2 linked regions of the Homo sapiens genome follow. The protein of the gene in region 2 purifies or fractionates together with the protein of the main gene of each other region. This does not show direct contact. Each region holds a gene or a part of one and is shown on either strand. Other genes may lie near its edges.

Region 1 (3,751 bases), on a different chromosome or scaffold from region 2:
TCCTCTGTGTTTCCAGATTAGTTGATTATGAACAATAGTTACAATACATTGATTTTGTTTCTACACCTAAAGTTTATGATGTTAACTTTTTAAAAAATAAAAAATGTATTTAGTACATGCTTTATATGATTGGAGGGATAATGAAACATAATTATTTAAAAATAACATTTAAGTTGTGCCTGTAACTTTGATGTCTTTGATGCAAATCATAAATGTGTGGATTTTGTTAGGGCCTATTGTAATGTTATTCCCCAACAGACTAAAACACTGTGTATTTATATATGTATATATATAAATATATATGTATATATATTTTTTCTTTCTGGGGGATTACTTTCTTTTAGATGATGGATTTAGAAGAGGTAATACCCCTGGATTGCTGTCGCCTTGTTAAATATGATGAGTTTCATGATTATCTAGAACGGTCATATGAAGGAGAAGAAGATACACCAATGGGGCTTCTACTAGGTGGCGTCAAGTCAACATATATGTTTGATCTGCTGTTGGAGACGAGAAAGCCTGATCAGGTTTTCCAATCTTATAAACCTGGAGGTGAGCAATTTTACACTATTTTTAGTTGTTCTGTACTTAGAATTTTCATGAGAAAGTTTTTTTTTTTATTGTAGAAATGAACATAATTTAAATTTTGTATATGGTCTTAAAATGTAGAATAATTTTGACAGGTTGAGAAGTACTCAGCAACAGCTTGGAATTAAGTTCTAGATTACTTGCAAAGAGTTGTGTACATAATTTTAAAAACAACAAAAAACAACAAAGCTTCTAGCTTACGGTCTTCAGTGGGTTTTTTCTTCTCCAGTGGGCGGTACTGAATCATTCTGGATGCTGTCAATCCCTAAAGTTATCAATTGCTCTCTTAGGAAGATCTCTCTTTCTCTTTCTTTCTCTTTATGGAGAAGACCTTGGTCCAAAAAAGTATATTCCCATAAAGTCTCAGAAGTAGAGGCTGTTTTTCAGGTCTTCTTTGGAAGGGTGGATTCATTATCCCATCACTGTCAGCATTTACAATTTTTCGTCATCCTCTCTATTTCTACAGGTCCCAGGGACTTCATCTTTTCTTTCTTCATTAAATCTATCACATTCACTCAGCACATTGAGTTTGTTATTTTTTTTTCTTTGAGACTGCTTAGGAAAACCAAAATATCATGCCCCTAGTTTTCCCAGAGACAGTTTCCCTATAGACAGTTACATGGTCTGTTTTTGTCCAGAGTTTTCTATAATTACCATATGTAAATTGTAACAAATAGAAGAAAAGCAGAATGTTTATATAATTTTACAAAATCCATACTGTTTTGTCTTGGCCCTAACTCCTTTGCATCAGTGGTTAGTGAGAATTAGGTTCTCTGTGTTTTTTCCCTAAAAGTTGAACTTACAAAACTTTATTCTGCCCTTTTACAATAATGTTCTTCTGTGGATCCTGTATATCTCCTTTTTAAATGAAGGCCTCTGTTTACAGAGTAGGTTAGATGTAGTATTCTTTCAAGGAGTCTACGGCTCTTAAGTGGGAAAATTTTATTTCTGGAAACCTTATGATGTCTACTTCGACTTCTAAGACTCTACCCTATCTATAAAGAGTCCCTTAAGGACATTTCCTTGCTTTTTTTTTTTTTTTGCTAGACAAGAAAAAGAATGATTAGGATATAACATGAGTCAGCAGTAATACCACTTATTTGAAAGAGAACTCTAAATGCAAGTGTGGATTGTAAGACTTATAAAGTAGTCTTTATTCATTAATAATCAAGATCTTAGCAGAATATTTTGTCAAATTTAGATTAACAACGTAGGGAAAAAACTGAGGATTGACATAAAACATGAGGTTAAAACAGATACAGAATAACTGTGTATTAAGTACAATGTTTGAAGATCATTTATTTTTCAAGTGATTAAGAGTTTAATTGTAAACATAACCTTCTGAAAACAGAAGAGAATGGGATTAAATTTCAATATAAAAGATTTAAGTGAGAAAACAAAGGCATAATCAGAACAGTTTTTGTGTGGAATTTTCCTTGGGATATAGGAAATATTATTTTGAGGATAAGTCTTTGATGATGAACAAGGTGGCTTAATAAGGGGTTTGTTCAAAAGCAAGCAGGAGTGCTGTGTCACCTTTAATATTTGTTTTGCAGTAACTGGTGATTTATATTTATTCAGTGTTGTTTTCATCTGTACTTGGAAGTTTGGATTTGTCACCTGTTAGAAACACATTAAGAATGCATTACTCATGTGAAATACATTAAAAAATAACCTCCAATTCTGTGTTTATGTCTTCAAATGTGACAGAAGTGATGGTGAAAGTTCATGTTGTTGATCTAAAGGCAGAATCTGTAGCTGCTCCTATAACTGTTCGTGCTTACTTAAATCAGACAGTTACAGAATTCAAACAACTGATTTCAAAGGTAAGTTTTAAAAGGGGTCTGTAAATAAATTTTTGAGAGCCTGCTATGTACAAGACACACTATGTGACAGTTATGAATAAGATACATGCTTTACCTCCAGGAGCTAATTAATATTTGTAGTTAGGAGACAACTGTAGTTAAAAGAAACAGATTGAGTAAAGTGTGGAGGTAAGAAAGTGTAAGGCAAGTACATATAACAACTTATATGTGTTGGCTGGATTATCATAAAATACAGGATTGGAAATGTAAGTACAGTTTATTTCATGAAGAGCTTTAAACAGTAAACACGAAAGTTTGGGCTCCTTTTTGGCGTAGGCAATAAGTCGAGTTTTTGTTTTCGTCATTTTTAAGTGCGGCAATGCTGCATTTAGTGTCTGGTGACACTAGACTAGCGTTCCACATGCCTTGAGGGGAGTCAGGAATGGAGAGGAGGAAGCTGTTGAAATAATTCAAGTGCAGTTGTATGACTGGAAATGAGAGAAGGCATGGATTCCAAGAGAGATAGAATCTGTAGGACTTGTAATTGTTAAATGTTGGGGTAAAGCAGATGCACCGATGACCTGAGCCAGGGGTTTCAAACTTGGGTAACCAGAAAAGTAGGGATACATTAATAGAAATAGAGGAGGAAGGTGAGGCTGTAGACTTGACAGGGAAGGTGATGAATTAAATACTGGTGCCATTATGTGAGCTAGTGATAAAGAACATAGGCTCATTCCGATTTTTTGAGCTGGAAAAATATAACAATGAAAACATTCAAATTTTGGGGGGCAAAAGGATTAGTCCACACCAGACAAATGATTATCATCCTTACAAGGGTCCTGTACTCTGCAGAACCCTGAGCATACAAACGGCAGATTTTGCAGGGTTCTTGAACCGTAGGTTAATATTCCCTGGTGTAGTGGAAATTGTTCCATAATTACAAGTTGAGTCCAGTTTTCAGTCATTCATCTTATGGTAGTCTTGTCTTTCATCTCATTATCTGGGGTTGTAAATACCTGTTTAGCAGAGTTGTAGTGAACATTAATGAAAAATAAATAAATGCTCTGAGGAAAAAAATTGTAAGGCATTATGTAAGAGTTGGTGGTTATTATGTTCTAAAAAAAAGTCTATATTTTGACTTCTGTATATGACTTCTAACAATTTTGCTAAAGTAATAACCAAGAAACAAATCATTTTGTGAAATTATATTTTATGATTAAATTGCTTGTAAATGCATACTATGTTGGTATAATATACTGTATATTACATTTTTAAAATATGAATGACAAATGTAAAAAAAATTAGTTTAATAAGCACTCACACATAATACAAAAGAAAGAGACACAGTAGTTTCTTCC
Region 2 (3,751 bases):
GGAACTCCTGGCCTCAAGTGATCTGCTCACCTCAGCCTCCCAAAATGGTGGGATTATAGGCGTGAGCCACTGTGCCTGGCCACTTCTGAGTATTTAAAATTGACACAGGATCCACTGACTGGGCAAGAATCTCCTCCCCTGTTCTACACTGAATACCATGGAATCCAGTTACCTGGGCTGCATTCCCCTCATGGCCTCTGGCTGAACTGAAGCTCAAGGGACTTCAGCAAGGCTTTCATCAGCTTTATTGTGAAGAAAGAGATCAAGGAATCTAGATCTGGAACATACCTGCCCCTGCTCAGAAAACCGCCCTCTGCTAGTGCTGACCAACACTCTTGCCCATCACAGGTTCATTGCCACAGAGTTCGTATTTTCCTTAATGTGTTTTCCCCTCTTTCCTTCACAAGGAAGCTCTGTGTGCATTTCTAGATCCACTATCATCCAGTTCATCTGAGCTCACCTCTCCAAGCCCAGCTTGGGCAGAAAAAGGGTTCACTCTCAGTGCGCTGCCTGTGTTCCCGAAGGAAACCCCTGCACATGAGCAGATGGGTAGAGCCAGGAGAGCCCAAACCTCAGGCCCAGGCCCCACAGGGTTCCCCACTTGCCCCTGTACTCAAGAAGAGGCTTTGTTAATAAGCCTTCCATAGCTTGTGTTTCAGCTTCCTGAGAGAATAGTTGAGGCTTCAGAGAGAGGATCAGCAGATCTCTTTAGAGATGTGAAGACCGGCATTTGTGGGGAAGCAGGAGAGTTAGCTTCAGAGGACTTGGGGTGAAGCCTGACACTGCCTTATTTCCTCACCAGCCATGGAAACCAGGACTGAGAGAGGGCAGGCAGATCCCTCAGCTGCACTGAGGGCCACTTGAAGGAGCCCTTACAATCAGGCAACTCAGCACACATAGTCTCTCGAATTGAATGCTTCACAGAAAGCTCTCGAGACCTAGGTCCATGGAGAAGGTCAGGACTGCCTTACCTGTGGTTGCAGAGGGGCAAACCCAGAGAAACTGTCTTGATCCACCACAGATGCCACGACCTAAAATCAAGGACAGGAGGGTGTGAGGCTCTGCCAGCACTGTTTCCATTCTTCTGGGTCTCCCTCTTTGCTCATGCCCTAGACCTGTTCTTACGTGAGCCTGGTTTCAGACGTGGACAGTAACTAAGGATTAGATTCCTGAGCCTCTGGATTAGGATTTCAGCAACTGAAGAAACGAGCATTCACCCCACCCCTGCTAACACAGGCTTGCTTTCTTCTCTCTTAAAAAAGAAATGTTTTTAATTGAGGTGCAATTTGTATAACATCAAATTATCTTTTTTTTTTTTTTTTTTTTTGAGACGGAGTCACGCTCTGTTACCCAGACTGGAGTGCAGTGGCGTGATCTCAGCTCACTGCAACCTCTGCCTTCCAGGTTCAAGTGATTCTCCTGCCTCAGCCTCCCGAGTAGCTGATATTACAGGCACCCGCCACTGTGCCCGGCTAATTTTTGTATTTTCAGTAGAGACAGGTTTTCACCATGTTGGCCAGGCTGGTCTCAAACTTCTGACCTCAGGTGATCTACCCATCCAGCCTCCCAAAGTGCTGGGATTATAGGCATGAGCCACCACGCCCAGCCCAAATTAATCATTTTAAAGTGAATGATTCAGTGGCATTTATCACATTCACAATGCTGTGCAACTACTGCCTCTCTCTAATTCCAAAATATTTTCATCACCTCAGAAGAAAATGCTGTACCCATTAAGCAGTGTGTCCACACTCCCCTTTCCCCTAAACTGGCAACAACCGGTTTGCTTTCTGTGACTGACTTGAGCCCTCTTCTCTGAGTTTTAAAAATCAGATGTAAAGCTAGCTTTATTCACAAATATGCTTAAACTATAGATAATTTTCATCATTCATTCATATAATCAAAACATTTTTGCTGAGAGCTGTTATGTGTCTAGCACTGTGCCAGGCTGTGAGGACTCAGTGGAGATCAAGCAGACATGGTCTCTGCTCTCTCAGTGCTTAGAGGCTGCACCAGATATTTCCTATAAACGGAATTGTACAACATGTGGCCTTTCGTATCTGGCTTCCTTCACATAGCATAATGTTTTCAAGGTCCATCCATGTTGTATCATGAATCATACTCCATTCCTTTTTATGGCTACGTAGTATTCTGTTGCATGGATATATCACATTTTGATTACTCATTCATCAGTTGATAGATATTTGGAGGGCTTCCACTCACCCAGGCTTTCTTGACCTCTGCTGCTATGCTAGACCCAGCTACCCGACCACTGGGCAACTTTAGCCCTATGAATGTGTCAAGTCAAATGTGGTTTTGGAAGGGCACTGCTGACTCACTTCAGACCATGTCTGAAAGAATTTAAGACTTGGATTTATTATTATTATTACTATTTTGAGATGGAGTTTCATTCTTGTTGCCCAGGCTGGAGTGCAATGGCATGATCTCAGCTCACTGCAACCTCCACCACCCGGATTCAAGCGATTCTCCTGCCTCAGCCTCCCAGGTAGCTGGGATTACAGGCATGCACCGCAGCACCCAGCTAATTTTGTATTTTTAGTAGAGATGGGGTTTCACCATGTTGGCCAGCCTGGTCTTGAACTCCTGACCTCGTGATCCACCTGCCTCAGCCTCCCAAAGTGCTGGGATTACAGGCATGAGTCACCATGCACAGCCAAGACCTGGATTTAGAAGAAGTCCAATTTAAGACATAGTCTAAACATAGGGCTGTGGAAGTGGGGAAAGACTCCTCAGCCCACTAAAACGTGAACTACAAGGAGCATTAATCCAAGAGGATCCCATGCTGATCTCTTTCCCTAACATGTTCTCTTCATATTTATTTTTATTTTTTAGAAACAGAGTCTCAATCTGTTGCCCAAGCTAGAGTACAGTGGTGCAATCATAGCTCACTGTAGCCTTGAACTCCTGGGCTCAAGTGATCCTCTCACCTCAGCCTCTCCACTAGCTAGGCTGGTCTCAAACTCCTGGCCTCAAGTGATCCTCCCACTTCAGCCTTCCAAAGCACTGGGATTACAGGCATGAGCTACCCTGCCTGGCCCTCTCTTCACATTTAGTGAGCTCCTCATGGCTGTGTTTTCCCTCCATTGGCTCAGTCCCTAAGACTCAGCATCCTGTGAGTAACCCTGTGGCTCTCACCCAGGGTCGAGCTGGAAGGGAGAAATGGGAGCAGCTTGGAGAAAATAAACTAGACATGGTTGCCTATCTTTCAGCCAAACCTCTGTCCTATAAACAAGTCTCTCATTGCCATCCCAGGGACAGAGCCACAAGGAGGCTACCCTCTTCTCAAGAGTCCCTCCCACCTTGCTCCACATGGCCCGGGCCACAGGAGACTCAGGGGAAGCTGAGCAATCCCACCTACCGTCGCCTTGCCTAGGTAATCCTTCTTGGCCAGCTGAGCCACTTGTCTCTCATTTGGTCGAAACAGCTTGCCCACAGGGATCACCACTGGCTCATATAGCTTCTGCTTCTGTAACACAGAAAACGTAGCATTCCCTTATGTGAAAATGGGGGTGACGATGCTTGTCCTGCCTCCCTCAGTGAATAGATGCAAGAATTCATTGAGATAACCACATAGAAGCCCTTTTCCAAATGAGTGTTGTCATTCCTCTAGGGTGTTAAGGTAGGAACCCTTGGTTTCAATACCACCTTCTGCTGCGAGGCCACATGGACATTGCTGCTATTTGTTGCTATTCAGCACCCTCTTTTCCCAGAGGAACTGCTCCTCTCCCACTCT

What was found. Proteins that work in one complex are often made in the same cells at the same time.
Region 1: the proteins of NCF2 (region 2) and USP47 purify together in Homo sapiens (affinity purification with mass spectrometry; 2 studies listed by BioGRID and IntAct, with this or other methods). This does not show direct contact.

The regions. Positions count from the first base shown.
Region 1 is NC_000011.10:11,935,959-11,939,709, forward strand, and holds part of USP47 (ubiquitin carboxyl-terminal hydrolase 47), read left to right. Parts: intron 1-344; coding exon 345-552; intron 553-2,298; coding exon 2,299-2,414; intron 2,415-3,751. UniProt on the Homo sapiens protein: Ubiquitin-specific protease that specifically deubiquitinates monoubiquitinated DNA polymerase beta (POLB), stabilizing POLB thereby playing a role in base-excision repair (BER). Acts as a regulator of cell growth and genome integrity.
Region 2 is NC_000001.11:183,569,809-183,573,559, forward strand, and holds part of NCF2 (neutrophil cytosol factor 2), read right to left. Parts: intron 3,485-3,751; coding exon 3,377-3,484; intron 1,032-3,376; coding exon 972-1,031; intron 1-971. UniProt on the Homo sapiens protein: Subunit of the phagocyte NADPH oxidase complex that mediates the transfer of electrons from cytosolic NADPH to O2 to produce the superoxide anion (O2(-)).